Regions from separate parts of the Homo sapiens genome. Here region 2 is linked to region 1. A link means that fine-mapping ties the variant in region 1 to the expression of a gene that starts in the linked region. Tissue or cell type: NK cells. Region 1 holds a variant in brackets; the other region holds the start of a gene. All regions are shown on one strand. Distances are from middle to middle.

Evidence for each region. PIP is the estimated chance that this variant, and not a neighbour inherited with it, causes the effect.
Region 2: EPHX4 starts here. The variant in region 1 is fine-mapped to the expression of EPHX4 in NK cells (Gilchrist 2021, PIP 0.94).

Annotation. Positions count from the first base shown.
Region 1 is chr1:91,952,900-91,962,547 of GRCh38, forward strand. All of the region lies in intron 1 of BRDT (bromodomain testis associated), which reads left to right. Among named protein-coding and RNA genes, the nearest start is that of BRDT, 8.3 kb to the left of the region's middle. The variant A/G (reference allele first, on the strand shown) is at 4,596.
Region 2 is chr1:92,024,136-92,034,444 of GRCh38, forward strand. It overlaps EPHX4 (epoxide hydrolase 4), which reads left to right and starts at 5,850. Exons shown (of 7, transcript NM_173567.5): 1 at 5,850-6,175; 2 at 8,370-8,455. The coding sequence starts at 5,945. It overlaps LOC124904218 (a long non-coding RNA gene), which reads right to left and starts at 6,252. Exons shown (of 2, transcript XR_007066222.1): 1 at 5,230-6,252; 2 at 1-3,069. RefSeq lists an enhancer at 5,549-6,050.

The sequences.
Region 1 (9,648 bases):
AGAAGCAAATGAGAAGATTGAGTCATTGTAAGGAATATTGTAATTCATTTCTTTTTTTCTTTATTATTATACTTTAAGTTCTAGGGTACATGTGCACAACGTGCAGGTTTGTTACATATGTATACATGTGCCGTGTTGGTGTGCTGCACCCATTAACTCATCATTTACATTAGATATTTCTCCTAATGCTATCCCTCCCCCCTCCCTCCACCCCAACATTGTAAATCATTTCTATGAATTACCTCTGGCCCAAATTGAAGCCTGATCTAAGTTTGCAGAAACTATTTTCTCCCTTGGACTGGAGACTGCTCATTTGATGGTGTAGGATTTGGAATTAGTGTATAAGCTCATCAAGGGCCAGGTTACTTTTGACCTCCAGAATCCAAGCTCTTTAGTTCTATGCTGTGCTGTTTCCTGAGATTGAAGTATGCACTTAGGGCAACACAATTTAATAACTGATTACAGTTAGTAATCACTGAGGGAATTCAAAAATTTGTCAGCTGGGTGTTGTGGCTCACGCCTGTAATCCCAGCTCTTTGGGAGGCTGAGGCAGGAGGATTGCTTGAGCCCAGGAGTTCAAGACCAGCCCGGCCAATATGGTGAAACCCCGTCTCTACTAAAAATACAAAAATTAGCCAGGTATGATGGCGGGTGCCTGTAATCCCAGCTTCTTGGGAGGCTGAGGCAGGAGAATCGCTTGAACCTGGGAGGCAGAGGTTCCAGTGAGCCAAGTTCATGCCACTGCATTCCAGCCTGGGTGACAGCAAGAAAAAGATTCTTTTCAGAGTTCCCAAGGTTATTTTGAGAGTTATTGAGTGGGCAAGAGACGTGGTTTTCAGGCAATTTATTCATTCAACCATAGACTGATGTAACAAGGGGATGCTACACTATTGTGTGATTGTCTTCAACAAAGTGAACTGAACTTTTCATTATCATTTATGATACATTGTTTTTGAACAGTTGTAATGAGTGGTTACTATGTAACATTGAATTCTTGACATTAGATTTCATCTGCTCATGATACATTTTTTTTTTTACTTAGCATTTTCTTCTCCTACCTGTTTTTTTTGTTTGTTTTGTTTTGTTTTTTGAGACAGAGTCTCCCTCTGTTGCCCAGGCTAGAGTACAGTGGCATGATCTCAGCTCACTGCAACCTCCCCCTCCGGGATTCAAGCAATTCTCCTGCCTCAGCCTCCCAAGTAGCTGGGACTACAGGCATGTGACACCACACCTGGCAAATTTTTGTATTTTTAGTAGAGACAGGGTTTCACCATGTTGCTCAGGCTGGTCTTAAACTCCTGACTTCAGGTAATCCATTTGCCTTGGCCTCCCAAAGTGCTGAGATTTTAGGTGCGAGCCACGGTGCTCGGCATTTTTTTTTTTTTTTTTTTTTTTTTTGAGGCAAGTTCTCACTCTGTCACCTAGGCTGGAGTGCATTGGTGCAATCATGGCTCACTGCAGCCTCGACTTCATGAGCTCAAGTGATCCCCCCACCTCTGCCTCCAGAGTAGCTGGGACTACAGGTGTGCTCCATGATGCCCAGTTATTTTTTGTATTTTGTGTAGACACAAGATCTCACTCTGTTGCCCAAGATGGTCTCAAACTCCTGGGCTCAAGTGTTCTTCCCACCTTGGCCTCTCAAAGTGTTGGGTTTACAGACATGAGCCACCGTGTATGACCCATCTTTCTAGAGATATATCCACAGGTAAAAAATGTTTTGAAAGCGGAAATAACAAAATGACAACTCACTATAAACATTAGAAGCAATAGTGGAGGCTGGGTGTGATGGCTCACGCCTGTAATCCCAGCACTTTGGGAGGCTGAGGTGGGAGGATCACTTGAGAACCAAGAGTTTAATAAGACCAGCTTGAGCAGCATGGTGAACCCTCATCTCTACTAAAAAAATTAAAAAAATTAGCCAGGTGTGGTGGCATGCAGCTGTAGTCCCAGCTACTTGGGAGGCTGATGTGGGAGGATGGCTTGAGCCCGAGATCGAGGCTTCAGTGAGCAGTGATCATGCCACTGCACTCCAGCCTGGGTGACAAAGCAAGACCCTGTCTGAACAAAACAAAAAAACAGTGGACTTTCACTTAGATGGGTTAGACTGCAGATTATAGTTGCCAGTATAATGGTAACTCTGTACTTTTTTCCCCTCCTTAAGGTGGCATATTGGAATGTGAGTGTAAGTGCTTTTTAGAGAGAACCTTAAATTAACCAGCATGTTTACTTCTGACACTAGACAAGTGGTTAGGACCCACCATTAACATGAAAATTGTCTGGGTGCGGTGGCTCAATCCTGTAATCCCAGCGCTTTGGGAGGCTGAGGCAGGTGGATCACTTGAGGTCAGAAGTTCAAGACAGCCTGGCCAACATGAAATCCCATCTCTACTAAAAATACAAAAATTAGCTGGGTGTAGTGTAATGCCTCCCTGTAATCCCAGCTACTAGGGAGGCTGAGGCAGAAGAATCGCTTGAACCCGGGAGGCAGAGGTTGCAGTGAGCTGAGATTGCTCCATGGCACTCCAGCCTGGGAGACAGAGTGAGACTCCATCTTAAAAACAAAACAAAACAACAACAAAAACCTCTTTTGGGTTCTTTTGTAGGACTCTTGTGGTGGCTTCTGTTTATTATTAAAAATTAAGAGCTAAAATTAAAGGCTTTAGGGAAAGTGAAATAGTAAAATTGACAGCTGTCTAGCATAGAAATTTGCAAAGTATCATAAAAAGCCACATAAGCCCATTTTTAAACGTTTAAAAGAAACAGAAGATTAAAGTAATTGAAACAGTAAGATGGGTAATGACAGTGGATACATTATAAAAGGGAAAATTTTTAGTCATATATTGCTGGACAGTGAGCTTCACTTCACATTAGAAACCAGGGCCTCCAGCCAAGAAATGCAGAGAGTTCACCACTGAGAAGATAATCAGATTATCAAATATTAGCTATTGTTTTGCCCAGTGACAATGATATCAGAATTATTTGTTAATGTTTGGTGCATTCATGTTCAGGCCATCTGTGGCCCTCAATTACAGTGTATTTAAGGCTGTTATTAAAATTTTCAAGTGTACAGAAAGGTAAAATAGTACAAAAAAACTATATCAGCAATTGTCAACATTTTGCCATATTTGCTTTTCTATATAGCCTTCCCACAGGCCTTTTAAAGATATATTACAGATATGACTTCACAAGTTTTTTTGAGCAACACTTAACATTTCTTCCTGTATACCTTGCTATTACATCTATCAAGATGAACAATCCCCTAGATTTCCCTAGTTGTCTCAAAATGTTATGACCGATCTTTTTCTTTTTTTCTTTTGCCACCTTTCTGGCTGGAAATATGGCTGATGTTTTAAAACCAAGATTTGGTATAGAATAACCAATTGAGTTTGGTTATCATGGTTCTTCCTGCCCCCCCCCACCCCCTGCCTGCTTTTCCTGAGTTGTATGTCATGGATCTTAATGTAGAGTCATTTTTCTTATTTTCTGTAATGACCTTGACTTTTGTAAAATAGGCCATTTTAGCACTGTCCCTTAGAACTTTTCTGCCATGATGGCAGTGTTCTATATCTGCATTGTCTCATACAGTAGCTCCTAGCCACATGTGGCTATTAAGCACTTGAAATGTGGCTAAGTTTTTAATTCTATTAAGTTTTGGGTAATTTAAATTGTTATGGTTAACTAGGGGCCATCATACAGCACAGCTCTAAGTCCCTGAATTTTCTGTAAAACAAAAGTTATATCTAAAAGCTTGATTAGGCTGGCATGGTGTCTCACATCTGTAATCCCCAGCGCTTTTGGGAGGCTGAGGTGAGAGGATGACTTGAAGCCAGGAATTTGAGACCAGTCTGGGAAACATAGTGAGACTCTGGCTCCCCCCCTTTCCTGAAAAAATAATTAACCAGGCATGGTGATATGTACCTGTAGTCCTACTCAGGAAACTGAGGGAGGAGGATTGCTTGCGCCCAGGAGTTCAAGATTGCAGTGAGCCATGATTGAGCCACTGCACCCCTGCTTGGGTGACAGAGCAAGACCCTGTCTCCAAAAAATTTTTAAAAATAGAAATAAAATCTTGATTACATTCAATTGTTCACATTTTTGGCAAAAAGGCTTTATAGGTAATTTATAGGTACTATGTACTTAGCCATGTTAAATACTACAGAGAAGTCTAGGAAGGTAACTGAGGAAGGCCAGTGAGGGATATGGAATTATGGAATGTTTTACAGTATTTATGATTTGTGGGACAGCAAAAACTTTTGTGTTAGCGCTGAACATGGAGAGGATTTGTATGTGTGTTTTAATAGATTTTATTTTTGGCCGGGGGCAGTGGCTCATGCCTGTAATCCCAGTACTTTGGGAGGCCGAGGCAGGCGGATCACGAGGTCAGGAGATGGAGACCATCCTGGCTAACACGGTGAAACCCTGTCTCTACTAAAAATACAAAAAACTAGCTGGGTGTGGTGGCGGGCGCCTGTAGTCCCAGCTACTCTGGAGGCTGAGGCAGGAGAATGGCTTGAATCTGGGAGGCGGAGCTTGGACTGAGCCGAGATTGCACCACTGCACTCCAGCCTGGGCGACAGAGCGAGACTCCATCTCAA[A/G]AAAAAAAAAATTTTATGTTTTTGAGGAGTTTAGGTTCACAGCAAAACTGAGCAGTAAATAGTGTTCCCATCTACCCCGTTTCAACACTAGTACAGCACCAGAGTGGTACGTTTGTTACAATCAATGAACCTACATTGACACATCACCCAACATTAATAGTTTCCATAGTTTCTGTTTTGGTGTACATTCCATGAGTTTTGACAAATGGATCTACCGTTATACTATCATACAAGGTAGTCTCACTTCCCTGAATATCCTCTGTGCTCTGCCTATTCCCTCCTCCCCAAACCCCTAGCAACTGCTGATCTTTTTACTATCTCTATAGTTTTGTGTTTTTTTGTTGTTTTTTGTTTTTGTTTTTGTTTTTGAGAGAGTCTTGCTGTGTCACCCAGGCTGGAGTTTAGTAGGGCCATCTTGGCTCACAACCTTCACCTCCCAGATTAAAGCAATTCTTGTGCCTCAGCCTCCAAGCAGCTGGGATTACTGGCAATGTGCCACATTGCCTGGCTAACTTTTGTATTTTTATCAGAGACAGGGAAGTCTCACCATGTTGGCCAGGCTGGTCTCGAGCTCCCGACCTCAAATGATCCACCTGCCTCGGCCTTCCAAAGCGCTGGGATTACAGGCGCGAGCCGCCATGCCTGGCCAAGTTTTGCCTTTTTTTGAGAACGACATTCAGGCTTTCACGATGTCTTTTCATGACTTGATAACTCATGCCCTTTTTTTTTTTTTTTTTTTTAAAAGGAGTCTCACTCTGTCACCTAGGCTGGAGTCCAGTGGTGGGATCTCAGTTCACTGCAACCTTTGTCTCCAGGGTTCAAGCGATTCTCATGCCTCGGCCTCCTGAGTAGCTGGGATTACAAGCGTTCACTGCCATGCCCGGCTAGTTTTCGTGTTTTTAGTAGAGATGGGTTTTCACCATATTGCCCAGGCTGGTCTTGAACTCCTGATCTTGGGTGGTCTACCCACCTTCACCTCCCAAAGTGTTGGGATTACAGGTGTGAGCCACCACGCCCAGCCGATAGCTCATTTCTTTTTAGTGCTGAATAATATTTCATTGCATGAATGTAGTAGAGTGTATTTACCCTTTCACCTACTTAAGGACATCTTAGTTATTTTCAAGTTTTGGCAATTATGAATAAAGCTGCTATAAACATCCTGTGTAAGTTTTTTGTGTGGCAAGGTATTTTTTTTAAAAAATCAAGGCTGGGGGAATGTCTGTAGCCAAAGATACCAGTGGAAAGTAATTCTAGATAAAAAATTAAATGTAGAAAATGAGGCGGGGAACCGTGGGCTTACCTGTAATTCCAGCACTTTGGGAGGCCAAGGAGGGCAGATTGCTTGAGCTCAGTAGTTCGAGACCAGCCTGGGTGACATGGCAAAACCCCATCTATACAAAAAAAATGAGCTGGATATTGTGGTATGTACCTATAGTCCCAGATAATCAGGAGGCTGAGGTGGGAGAGTCGTTTGAGCCCAGGAGTTTGAGGCTGCAGTGAGCCAAGATCATACTGTTGCACTCCAGCCTGGGAGACAGTAAGACCCTGACTCAAAAAAAAGTAGAAAATGAAACCATGAGACTGCAGAAAGTATATTGTGTAATAAATACACATATATATATTTTTGAGCCAAGATCGCGCCACTGCATTCCAGCCTGGGCGATGGAGTGAGATGCCATCTCAAAAAACAAACAAAAACGTAATACATAGTAAATAATACTATATGTAAAGTTCAAAAATGGTCACAGCTTGGTCTGTAGTGATTGGAGTGGTTAACCTTTGTGGATGAGGGAGGTTACAGTGACAGGGGCACCTAAAAAGTAGGTTAGCTTTAAATAATTACAAAGCCAGGATAAGAGCCAGTTTAGTTGTGACATCCTAGAATAGCTCCATCTTTGTTCTTACGATTTTTCTCTTTTTCTTTCTTTTTTTTTTTTTTTTTATTTTACAGGTGAGGTCTCACTGTGTTGCCCAGGCTGGTCTTGAACTCCTGAGCTCTTTTTTGAGACAGGGTCTTGCTGTGTCACCCAGGCTGGAGTGCAGTGGCACAATCTGAGCTCATTGCAGCCTCTACCTCCCGGGTTCAAGTGGTCCTTCCACTTCAGCCTCCCGAGTAGCTGGGACTACAGATGTGCACCACCACGCCTGACTGATTTTTGTATTTTTTGCAGAGATGGGGGGTTTCATCTTGTTGTCCAGTCTGGTATTGAACTCCTGCCCTCAAGCCATCTGCCCTCCTCAGCCTACCAAAGTTCTGGGATTACAGGCATGAGCCACAGCACCCAGCCTATGACTTTTATTAAGTGCTATATTTCCATATATGTGTAACATGAAAATCGTGAAAGTAGAAGATTGATAACCACCTTCAATTCATTTTAATGTAGTAGTACTCAATCTTGGCCGCACATCAGAAGTAACAGGGAACTTTTAAAAAACCAACAAAACTGATTCCCAGGCGCTCTCTCCAGAGATTGGGACCTGAGCATTGGTATTTTTAAAGACCCACAGCTCCTCATACCTATTAGGATGGCTAGTATTAAAACAAAACAAAAAATTACTATTGGCAAGGGTGTGGAGAAATTGAACTCTTGTACGTTGTTAGTGGGAATGTGAAATCATGTATTGACCATGGAAAATGGGATGGGCTTCCTCAAAAAATTAGAAATATAATTGCCATATGATCTAGCAATTCCACTTGTGTATATATATCCAAAAGAATTGAAAGCAGGGTCCTGAGACACTTGTAAACCCATGTTCATAGCAGCAGTATTCACAATATAGTCAAGAAGTGGAAGCAACCCAAGTGGCATCAATGAATGAATGGATAAAGAAAATGATAGACATACGATGGAATATTATTTAGCCTTAAAAGGAAGGGAAATTCTAACACACGCTACAACATGGATGAATCTTGAGGGCTTTGTATTAGGAAAAATAAACCAATCACAAAAAAGATAAATATGATTTGTCACTTTAATGAAGCATTTAGGGTAGTCAAATTCATGGCAACAGAAAGCAGAATGGTGGTTGCCAGGTACAGCAGGGACAGAAGAATGAGGATTTGTTGGTTAATGCACATAGAGTTTCTGTTTTGCAAGATGGAAAAGTTCTAGAGATTGGTTTCACAAAAAACATGAATATACTTAACACTGCTGAACTGTACACTTAAAAAGAGTATGGTAAATTTTGGTATGTTTTACGCCACAGTTCAAAAATATAAGTGATTAATATGCAACAGGAGGTGAGAACTAATACTACTTTAATGCAGACAAAGATAATATTGGCTAAGTGTTAACACTGGTCTCTAAAAATGGGCAACTTATTTCATTTTCATTTTGCTTATGTACTTGAGGTATTATGTGCACGTTGGTAGTACCTTTATTATCCTTAAAGTAATGATGCTGTCTAGGAATATTAAATACCGTCTTTCTGAAACACCTATGAAATTTAAAATATTTTATTCTAGATGTAGCAATATGTGCCACAGAGTAACATTTTAATCTAATAAATTCGGTTTTAAAATAAATCACTTTGGGTCGGGTGCAGTGGCTCACGCCTGTAATCCCAGCACTTTGGGAGGTCGAGGAGGGTGGATCACCTGAGGTCAGGAGTTCCAGACCAGCTTGGCCAATGTAGTGAAACCCTGCCTGTACTAAAAATACAAAAATTAGCTGGGCGTGGTGGCAGGTGCCTGTAATCCCAGCTACTCAGGAAGCTGAGGCAGGAGAATCACTTGAAGCCAGCAGGCGGAAGTTGCAGTGAGTGGAAATTGTGCCACTGCACTCCAGTCTGGGCGGTAGAGTGAGACTCCATCTCAAAAAATAAAAACAGAAAAATAAAATAAAATCACTTTGGCTGGGCATAGTGGCTCAAGGCTGTAATCTCAGCACCTTGGGAGGCTGAGGTGTGTGGATCACCTGAGGTCAGGTTTTTGAGACCAGCCGGGCCAACATGTTGAAACCCTGTCTCTACAAAAAAATACAAAAATTAGCTGCATGGTGTCATGCATCTGTAGTCGCAGCTACTTGGGAGGCTGAGGCTAGAGAATCGCTTGAACCTGGGAGGCAAACATTACAGTGGGCCGAGATCGCGCCATTGCACTCCAGCCTGGGCAACAGAATGAGACTCCATCTCAGAGAGAGAGAGAGACACCATAAATTAATCACTTTTTTCAAATTAGCCAGAACATTTTTTTACTTTGCTTTTCTCTCTTCATTGAATTAACAATTGTAGAATACTTACACACTGATCATATCTTTAACATTCTCTGTTATTTCTTCCGACTAGGAATTTATAGACTTTTCCTGCTAAGACCTCAATTTGTGTTTTTGTGAAAGACAGGAAGACTGAGATGTTGAAATAATTTAAAACAGCCAAGGTTGGCCGGGCGCGGTGGCTCACGCTTGTAATCCCAGCACTTTGGGAGGCCGAGGCGGGCGGATCACGAGGTCAGGAGATCTAGACCACGGTGAAACCCCATCTCTACTAAAAATACAAAAAGTTAGCCGGGCGTAGTGGAGGGCGCCTGTAGTCCCAGCTACTCGGGAGGCGGAGGCAGGAGAATGGCGTGAACCCGGGAGGCGGAGCTTGCAGTGAGCCGAGATGGAGCCACTGCACTCCAGCCTGGGTGACAGAGCAAGACTCCGTCTCAAAAAAAAAAAAAAAAAAAAAAAAAAAAAAAAAAAAAAAAAAAAAAAATCCAAGGCTAAGGCATATATAGTGAAACTTTTACTATTTGTATATAAAAAATTTGTATTTGTTTAAAAATTGATTCCTTTGCCATTTGGCTTTTTTTTTTTTTCATCCTGTCTTAATCATGATGTGCTTTAAAACACAGTATGTGTTAACTCTTTTTTGAGATGGAGTTTCATTCTTGTTGCCCAGGCTGTAGTGCAATGGCACGATCTTGGCTCACTGTAACCTCTGCCTCCCGGATTTAAGGGATTCTCCCTCCTCACCCTCCTAAGTAGCTTAGATTACAGGCATGCACTACCACCTCTGGCTAATTTTTGTATTTTTAGTAGAGACAGGGTTTCACTACATTGGTCAGGCT
Region 2 (10,309 bases), 72 kb after region 1:
CCTTGCCCCCCGCCCTTTGCCTTCTGCCATGATTAGAAGCTCTCTGGGGACTCCCCAAAAGCAGGAGCTACTATGCTTTCTATACAACCTGCAGGACCATGAGCCAATTAAATCTCTTTATAAGTTACACAGTCTCAGGTTTTCTTTATAGCAATGAGCGAATAGACTAATACAAATAGTTCTGTAGTCATAACTGTGCAATTCGCTCAAAGTATATAACCTAGAGAAGCTATTACAAAACAGACTAAGGAGACATGTACAAGAATATACAAAACATATGCAAGGATCATAATAGGGAAAGAGGGAGAAGAGAGGGAGGAGGGAAGGAAAGACAGGACCAACCCAAATGCTTTTAATAGAAGAAGGAATAAACTATCATGATCTTACAGTGGAATATTATCAAAAATTAATTATATGCAATAATATGGGGGAATGATACAATGTTGAGCTCTCCTGCAATCTGGTGAATGCAGTTTCAATTTCTAATTGGTTAATGCTAGGATATGGAAAAACTATTGACTTTGTATACTTACCTTGTATCTAGACACCTTACCAAATTGTATTCTATTAATTTTTTAAGGTTTAAAGAAATATAATCTGCAAACAGCTATATTTTCGCCTCTTTTCCAATTTTTATGTAATTTTTAAAATTTATTTGGTTCTTTTTGGGTTATTTCCTTAGCTTGAATTTCCAAAAATAATGTTAAATAATAGAGCTAATAGCAATCATTCTTTCTCATTCCCAACTCTTAAAATAGAGGATTTCACTATAGTTTACTGTTTTCTGGTTATGGTAATGTTTAAGCAGTGTCTTGCTACCTGGATTAATTTAGCTTTTAAGGAATAGCTGCTGAATTTTGCCACATGCCTTTATTGGCATTTGTTGATATGTGGTTTTTCTTCTACAAATGTCGATATAGTTATGTTTATAGATTTCTTGATGTTGGACCATTCTTTCCTGAAATTAAACCTCCATAGTTGTATTATTCATATTATATACTGGTAGATTCAATTTCTAATATAATTATGGAAACTATTTTCTTTTTTTTTTAAATAGTTGTTGGTTTAATTTAATTAATTTGATATAGCTGACACAAATATCTACAAAACCAAATATAAATATCTGTGCCACCACTAAATACTATAATTGCTATTTTTCAGCAATTTTAGTAGACTGTCCTTGTACTGACACTTCACTTCTCAGTCTAATGGGTTATTTATTTATTTATTTTAGTATTTATTGATCATTCTTGGGTGTTTCTCAGAGAGGGGGATTTGGCAGGGTCATAGGACAATAGTGGAGGGAAGGTCAGCAGATAAACATGTGAACAAGGGTCTCTGGTTTTCCTAGGCAGAGGACCCTGCCGCCTTCCGCTGTGTTTGTGTCCCTGGGTACTTGAGATTAGGGAGTGGTGATAACTCTTAAGGAGCATGCCGCCTTCAAGCATCTGTTTAACAAAGCACATCTTGCACCGCCCTTAATCCATTTAACCCTGAGTGGACACAGCACATGTTTCAGAGAGCACGGGGGTGGGGGTAAGGTTATAGATTAACAGCATCCCAAGGCAGAAGAATTTTTCTTAGTGCAGAACAAAATGGAGTCTCCTATGTCTACTTCTTTCTACACAGACACAGTAACAATCTGATCTCTTTCTTTTCCCCACATTTCCCCCTTTTCTATTCAACAAAACCGCCATCTTCATCATGGCCCGTTCTCAATGAGCTGTTGGGTACACCTCCCAGACGGGGTGGCGGCCGGGCAGAAGGGCTCCTTACTTCCCAGACGGGGCAGCCGGGCAGAGGCGTCCCCCACCTCCCTCCCTGACGGGGCAGCTGGCCCGGCAGGGCCTGCCCCCCACCTCCCTCCCGGACGGGGCGGCTGGCCGGGCGGGGGCTGCCCCCCACCTTCCGGACAGGGCGGCTGCCGGACGGAGACGCTCCTCACTTCCCAGAGGGAGCAGCTGCCGGGCGGAGGGGCTCCTCACTTCCCAGACTGGGCGGCTGCCGGGCGGAGGGGCTCCTCACTTCTCAGACAGGGCGGCCGGGCAGAGATGCTCCTCACCTCCCAGACGGGGTGGCGGCCAGGCAGAGACGCTCCTCAGTTCCCAGACGGGGTCACTGCCGGGCAGAGGCGCTCCTCACATCCCAGACAGGGCGGCGGGGCAGAGGCGCTCCCCACATCCCAGACGATGGGCGGCCGGGCAGAGATGCTCCTCACTTCCTAGATGGGATGGCGGCCGGGAAGAGGCGCTCCTCACTTCCCAGACTGGGCGGCCCAGCAGAGGGGCCCCTCACATCCCAGACGATGGGCGGCCAGGCAGAGACGCTCCTCACTTCCCAGATGGGGTGGGGGCCGGGCAGAGGCTGCAATCTTGGCACTTTGGGAGGCCAAGGCAGGCGGCTGGGAGGTGGAGGTTGTAGTGAGCCGAAATCACGCCACTGCACTCCAGCCTGGGCAACATTGAGCACTGAGTGAGCGAGACTCCGTCTGCAATCCCGGCACTTCAGGAGGCCCAGGCGGGCAGATCACTCGCGGTCATGAGGCGGAGACCAGCCCAGCCAACACGGCGAAACCCTGTCTCCACCAAAAAATACAAAAACCAGTCAGGCGTGGCGGCGCGTGCCTGCAATCCCAGGCACTCGGCAGGCTGAGGCAGAAGAATCAGGCAGGGAGGTTGCCATGAGCCGAGTTGGCGGCAGTACCGTCCAGCCTCCGCTGGGCATCAGAGGGGGGACGGTGGAAAGCGGGAGGGGGAGGGGGAGAGGGAGAGGGCTGAAACTATTTTCATTCAAAAAGTTGTCTATATCGCTTTTTAATCTTCATCAGATTTTGGTATTGTGGTCTGTAAATTGAGGAACTTATTTGATGTGAATGAATTTAACAGGAAGTCTGTCATTTAAAAGTTGATACAAGCTGGGTGTGGTGGAATGCATCTGTAATCCCAGCTACTTGGGAGGCTGAGGAAGGATGGTCATTTAAGCCCAGGAGTCCGAGGCTGCAGTGTGCTTAATGACTGCACCTGTGAATAGCCACTGCACTCCATCCTGGGTAACAGCGAGTCCCTGTCTCTTGAAAAAGAAAAAAAAAAAAAGGTAGGACACAAGCAGCCAACATGATCTAGCGGGCAAATGTAGAACACTCTTATCCACACGTTTTTTTTTTTTAAACAACCATGGAACATTCACCAAGATAGACCATATCCCAGATCATAAAACAAATTTAAAAGAATAGAGGTCATGTGGAGTATGTTCTTGGGCCATAATAGAATCAGATACAAGTCAATAATGGACTGCCAAGCACAGTACCTCATGCTTGTAGTCTCAGCACTTTGGGAGGCTAAAGTGAGAGGATTGCTTGAGGCCAGGAGTTCAAGACCAGCCTGATCAACATAGCAAGATCTCTATCTCTTAAAAATTTAATGTGTTATGAGTTAAGAGTTTGGAGGACTGAAAGTAATAATAGAAAAATTGCTAAACACATTAAAAACACAATGGGGCAAGGAGGAAGACAGGAATCTTTGTTTTTTTTTATTTATTTATTTTTTGAGACGGAGTCTCCCTTTGTCACCCAGGCTGAAGTGCAGTGGTGCAATCTCAGCTCCCTGCAATCTCTGCCTCCCGGGTTCAAGCAATTCTCATGCCTCAGCTTCCCAAGTAGTTTGGACTACAGGCGTGCACTACTATGCCTGGCTAATTTTTTTGTATTTTTAGTAGAGATGGGGTTTCAACATGTTGGCCAGGCTGGTCCAAAACTCCTGACCTCAGGTGATCTGACCAGCTCAGCCTCCCAAAGTGCTGGGATTACAGATGTGAGCCACCACCCCCGGCCCTGTTTTTTGTTTTGTTTTGTTTTGTTTTTCATTTTTTGAAACATAATCTCACTCTTTAACCCAGGCTAGAGTGCAGTGGCATGATTTTGGCTCACTGCAGCCTCAACCTTCCAGGGCTAAGGCGATCCTGCCACTTCAGCCTCCCAAGTAGCTGGGACTACAGGCGTGCACCACCACACCTGGCTAATTTCTCTATTTTTTGTAGAGACAGGGTTTTGCCATGTTGCCCACGCTGGTCTTGAATTGCTGAGCTCAAGCGATCCTCCTGCCTCAGCCTCCCAAAGTGCTGGGATTATAGGCGTAAGCCACAGCACCCAACCTAAAACAGGACATTTTAAAAAATACATAACAAATGGCAAAATACAACATATCAACACATATGTAATACGATTAAAGAGTACTGAGAGATGCCAGGCGCGGTGGCTCACACTTGTAATCCCAGCACTTAGGGAGGCTGAGGCGGGCGGTTCACGAGCTAACCTGGCTAACACGGTGAAACCCCGTCTCTACCAAAAATACAAAAAACTTAGCCGGGCATGGTGGCGGGCGCCTGTAGTCCCAGCTACTCAGGAGGCTGAGGCAGGAAAATGGCGTGAACCCGGGAGGCGGAGCTTGCAGTGAGCTGAGATGGAGATCGCGCCATTGCACTCCAGTCTAGGCGACAGAGTGAGACTCCGTCTCAAAAAATAAAATAAAAAGAGTACTGAGAGAAATGTATAGGTGCTAAATGATTGCATTAGAAATTGCAAAGGTCTCAATAAGTTCCTAACTCAAGACCCTAGAAAAAAAGAGCAAAATACAGTTAACCCTCAAACAACATGTGTTTGAACTGTGTAGGTCCACTTACACATGGATTTTCTTCCACCTCTTCCCTCCCCCTCACCCCAAGACAGGAAGATCAACCTCCCTTCTTCTTTCTCCTCCTCAGCTTACCTAACCTGATGATGACAAGGATGAACACTCTTAAGATAATCCACTTCCACTTAATGAATAGTAAATGTATTTTCTCTTCCTTATGATTTTAACATTTTTCTTAATTATAAAGATACAGTATGTAATACATAAACATATGTTAATTGTTTTGGTCAGTAGTAGGCTATTAGTACTTAAGTTTGGGGGAACTCAAAAGTTATACATGGATTTTCAGATGTGAAAGGGTTCAGCAACCCTAACCCCCCGCATTGTTCAAAGGTCAATTGTATAACTCACACATGCTGAAGTAAATTCAAAATTGTACAGCCACTTTGGAAACCAGTTTGACAGTTTCTCATAAAAAATGAACACTTAATACCTGACCCGGTGATTGGGAAAAGGCTTAATGAAATTCTAACAGTGAACTGGACGATAGAAGAGGTCAGGACAAGAGTGGCCATGTCGGTGCTGAGGCTGAGATACCTACCGAGGACTGTCACTCTCACGGCTTCCAGCCCTTCGACGAACTCTCAGGTGTGTGGCCTTCTGGCCAGGCTTCTGCCGCGTCACGTTGTTGAAGCATTCGTTGTATCCCTGGGGTTGCAGCTCTCTGTAAGTTTGCTGTGGCTGAACCAGGCAAGGCATAGGCGGATTTCTACAGAAATTATGATTCCACGAAAGATTTTGAGAAGAGGAAGGCTGGTATCTTTCAGAGTGCAGAGTGATTTTGCACTCTAAAGAATCTCTTTGGGTGTAATAGCATGGAAGTTTGTCGCTGACCTGTGTCCCTGAACTATGACACACGAATATGTGGGCTTAGAAATAGTTTTGCTTGATACATTGAGAACAACAAAGAAGACTGAGTGGCGCTACCTTCTTTGGTGCCCAGGATGGTTTGGGAAAGTCTCGCCTTCATCCTCCCCCACAGTTTTGCGATTTTGAAACGGGATCTCGCTCTCCGCGGAAGACAGCCAAGCTCTGCACCCCGGCCTGGCCCGCCGCACCCCGCAGGCCCGGCTCTCCCCTGCGCGCTCCGGGCTGGGCGCGGCGCGTGTGCGGAGCCGCCGCGGTGACACGGAACGCCGGCCGCCCCGGGCCGGGGGAGGCGCGCGTCGAGAGGCGACGGCGGGCTGGCCTGGCGCGCTGCGGCGCTCGCTCACCCGCTCCCGAGGAAGGGCAGTGGGCCCCGCCGCCGCCTCCCAATGGCGAGGCTGCGGGATTGCCTGCCCCGCCTGATGCTCACGCTCCGGTCCCTGCTCTTCTGGTCCCTGGTCTACTGCTACTGCGGGCTCTGCGCCTCCATCCACCTGCTCAAACTTTTGTGGAGCCTCGGCAAGGGGCCGGCGCAGACCTTCCGGCGGCCCGCCCGGGAGCACCCTCCCGCGTGCCTGAGCGACCCCTCCTTGGGCACCCACTGCTACGTGCGGATCAAGGTGAAGGGCCGCGCGGGCCTGGCGGGAGCGGGAGGGAGCGTGACCGCCGCGAGGGTGGGGGGCTCCGGGCTTCTCCTTCCGAGACGCTGGCTCAGCGTCCCCTAGTGTCCTGGCAGGAGGGGAGGAGGGGTTGGGTCCCTGTGTGTCGTGTGTGTGTGTGTGTGTGTGTGTGTGTGAGAGAGAGAGAGAGAGAGAGAGATACAGATAAACAGCACTCGGTCTTTGCAGGCACCTTGATTGGTTTCTGAATGTGGAACTTCTCTAATCAGGGGCCTCTTATATTACTGCCCCCCGGCGCCACAACAACCCAGAATAAACCTGCTCTTTTTCCTACTGCAAGGGGAAGCTGTCTCCTGTCACCCTTTTGCCCTTTAGAGCTCAGATCAGCTGTAGAGAATTGTTCCTCGTGGCATCCTAATGTCTCAGGAGGCTGTTCTTGCCCAATTTTAGAGATAATAAGAGTAAACAGTCAGTCTTTGGGAGTCATGAGTTTATTATGATCACAGACGACTTAGGTTGCATGAAACAATAAGTAAATTGTGTGTGTTGTGGGGAGGAATGCATACTTATGAAGTCAGGGACCAAAGAAAGGAATGGAATAAAAGGTAAATCCAGCCATGCCTGCAGACGCTAATTGTTCAAGCTTCCTCACAGCCCACAAATATTCTGTTTCCTGAGGCTCCAGGTGGTGAAGGGAAATAGTTCCCGTGATACACCCTGCAGTCTGACTCACAGGCCTTTCAAACCCAGCCTCATAAGAGGGGATGTTTATGTCACCAAGTCCTTATTTCCTGTTAGGAGCTAAATTGCCCCGCAGCTGAAGTTCAGAAGGGCAAGAGAACTTCTTTCTTGCCTGGGGTCGACATGAGAATTAAATAGGTTAATATTTATAAAAACAAACACGAAAAACTTAGAACAATGCCTGATGCATAGTCAGTGCAATAAAGTATCTGTTAATTAAATCCATTGCAGTGCCCATAACATTTAATCCTCCAAGACTCACCACCAATAAAAAAAGTTATTGAACCTCTAGGAAGCCATCGTGCAGCTGAGGGTAAAGTCAGATTTGTTATCTCTGTTCAACCTGAGGGGTAAAAGTAGTATAAGAACCATCTGGAATTCCATAAAACACTTTTCCCCTCGCTCTGGCCGCCTAAAGAGCTTCCCCAGAGACAGAGAACCGAGTGGAAAGAGCATTGTCCTGGGAGTTAGGACAAGATGGAGATTCTGGTCACAGCCCTGCTCTCAACCATTTTATGACTCATGTTACCATCTTTGGGCCTCATCTTCTGAATCTGCAAAATGATTCTTTCACATCTGAAAACTCAGTTGCTTGAGTTGCCTGCTATAAAAACCCAATGTCTGTGTTTAGCTTTTGGTTCTTTTTGTTTCCTAGCTTGCTTGCTTTCAGAGATTTTTATTCCTGCTGTTCCCTCTACTTTCCTCAATTCAGCCTGCTTAGTATTTGCTTGAATTCCTGACTCATTCCCATGTTTTTTTAATTTTCCTTGGGTTTTCTTGTCTCCTACATGCAGAGTGAAGTCTTGAGCACTCAGGGCATTCTCTTATTAGAAACGCACACTGACATGACATGAGCAGGCAGCAAGGGGAACAGAACATGCAACACTCAAAATAATAATGTGGGAAGGAGAGACCTAAAAATAAGAGAAGGAGGTGTGAATTATATAACTGATGGCACAGCTCTTGACGGGCAAGCTGAGAAAAGTAGATGACTAGGATGTAAACATGGCAGAAATATAAATTCAGATTAGAATTATTTACATGTCCTGCAGCATTTGAGGGAGATGAAATGTGACACATCAGTAAGATGAAAGTTACAAATGGTAAGATGAAAGTTACAAATTGTGACATTGCTTCAGAAGCTCATAATATATAAATTGACTGTACTAGAACAAGAAGAGAAGGTACTGTCAAGGGAGTGTTGACAAAGTGAATCTGTCAATTTACCCTATTAATAGGTCATGGGGTTTGCTTTTCTTTTTGAAAATTAATAAAAGTAAATATATTTCTTGATGTTAAAAATAAGGCAACTGAGTGTCATGAAGATATTGTAAATACACAAATGTTTTAAAATAAGGCAAGTTACTATTTTTTTAATGAAATGGAAATGCTAAATATATTGCTTTGTCAATCAACACAAACATCACTAAAATTCCATGCCCTCTACTTTCAGGATTCAGGGTTAAGATTTCACTATGTTGCTGCTGGAGAAAGAGGCAAACCACTTATGCTGCTGCTTCATGGATTTCCAGAATTCTGGTAAGCTTACCAACTAACATTTATTGTTACATTAAAACTTGGCTTATTTTCTCAGTTCATTTTGTGCTGCTGTAACAGAATATCACAGTCTGGGTAACTTAAAATGAACATAAATGATTTTCTCAGAGTTCTGGAGGCTGGGAAGTTCAGGATCAAGGTGCCAACATCTGACAAGGGCCTCCTTGCTGCAACATCACATGGCAGAGGAGGAAGGGCAAAGAAGCAAAAGGGGGCCGAAATTGCCCTTTCATAGTGGCATTATTTCCATCCATGAGGGCAGAGCCTGCATGACCTAACCACCTCTTAAAGGTCCCACCTCTTAATACTGTTACAATGGCAATTTTTGAGACAAGGTCTTACTCTGTCACCCAGGCTGGGGCACAGTGGCATGATCACAGCTCACTGCAGCTTTGAACTTCTGGGTTTAAGCAGTCTTCCCACCTCAGCCTACCAAGTAGCTGGGACTACAGGCATCTACCACCACACCTAGCTTTTTTTTTTTTTTTTGGAGGTGGGATCTTGCTATATTGCCTAGGCTGGTCTTGAAAGCCTGAGATCAAGCAATCCTCCCACCTTGGCCTCCTAAAGTGCTGGGATTACAGATGTAAGCCACCACGCCAAGCCTCTTGTAATGACTTTTAACAGACCCTACTTTTTGATCATGTGCCCAGAGTTAATATTCCTAAATGTTCCTGAATCACAGGTCTTTTTCCTCCTAAAAAGACCTACCTGCTACCAATTTAAATTTATATATTTTTTTGAGGATTAAAAGAAGTATCTTTTAATGTTTCAAATTTCTGAAATAGTAACAAAACAGTTTGTATAGAGTATCTACTATAGACAAAATACAACACTGGGTAGGGAAAGGAGATTTTAAACAAACCAAAGACGTGGAGTGATTGTTATTAGGAAGATTTTGGTGAGGCTGGGGTGAGGAGAAGGCAGAGTAGAGCACTTATGGAAACTGAAAATGAACTATTTCCTATGCACAGAGCAATAGGCTTATATGAATGCAGGATAATTTAAGTACCTAAATATTTCTCATTAGGAAGAAAATCTGGAGCCCCAAATATGTAATTATTAGTTACTATCTTCGTTCATTTTTGTTGCTAACAAAATACCTGAGACTGGGTAATTTATAAAGAATAGAAATTTATTTCTCACCGTTCTGGAGACTGGGAAATCCAAGATCAAGGCACCAGTAGGTTCAGAGTCTGGTGACATCCATGTCTGTGTGTGTCCAACATGGTGCCTTGTTGATGTGTCTTCTGGAGGCAAATAAACTTCATCATATGAATTTTGGGAGAACATATTCAGACCATAGCAGTTACCTAAGGGGAAGTGTTCTGTTCTCTATTGACCCCACTGGGCCAAATAAGTACAGATGAAAGCAACACATGTTTAAACTTTTTTTTTTTTTTTTTTTTTAATGAACATCTTTAAAAGAGGTGGTACATATCAGGAGGCCGAGGCGGGTGGATCACGAGGTCGGGAGATTGAAACCATCCTGGCTAACACGGTGAAACCCTGTCTCTACTAAAAATACAAAAAAAAAAAAAATTAGCTGTGCTTGGTGGCAGGCGCCTGTACTCCCAGCTACTCGGGAGGCTGAGGCAGGAGAATGGTGTGAACCCAGGAGGCGGAGCTTGCAGTGAGCCGAGCTCGTGCCACTGCACTCCAGCCTGGGCAACAGAGCGAGATTCCGTCTCAAAAAAAAAAAAAAAAAAAAAGGGTGGTACATATCATGGCAGTAAAAGAAAACCAGTTTTTATAGCACAGGGCTATAAGAAATAGTTCATAAACTAAATAGGTCAAGAAATTGATGTTTTTAAAAGCCCAGTTCCCTTAGTTGAC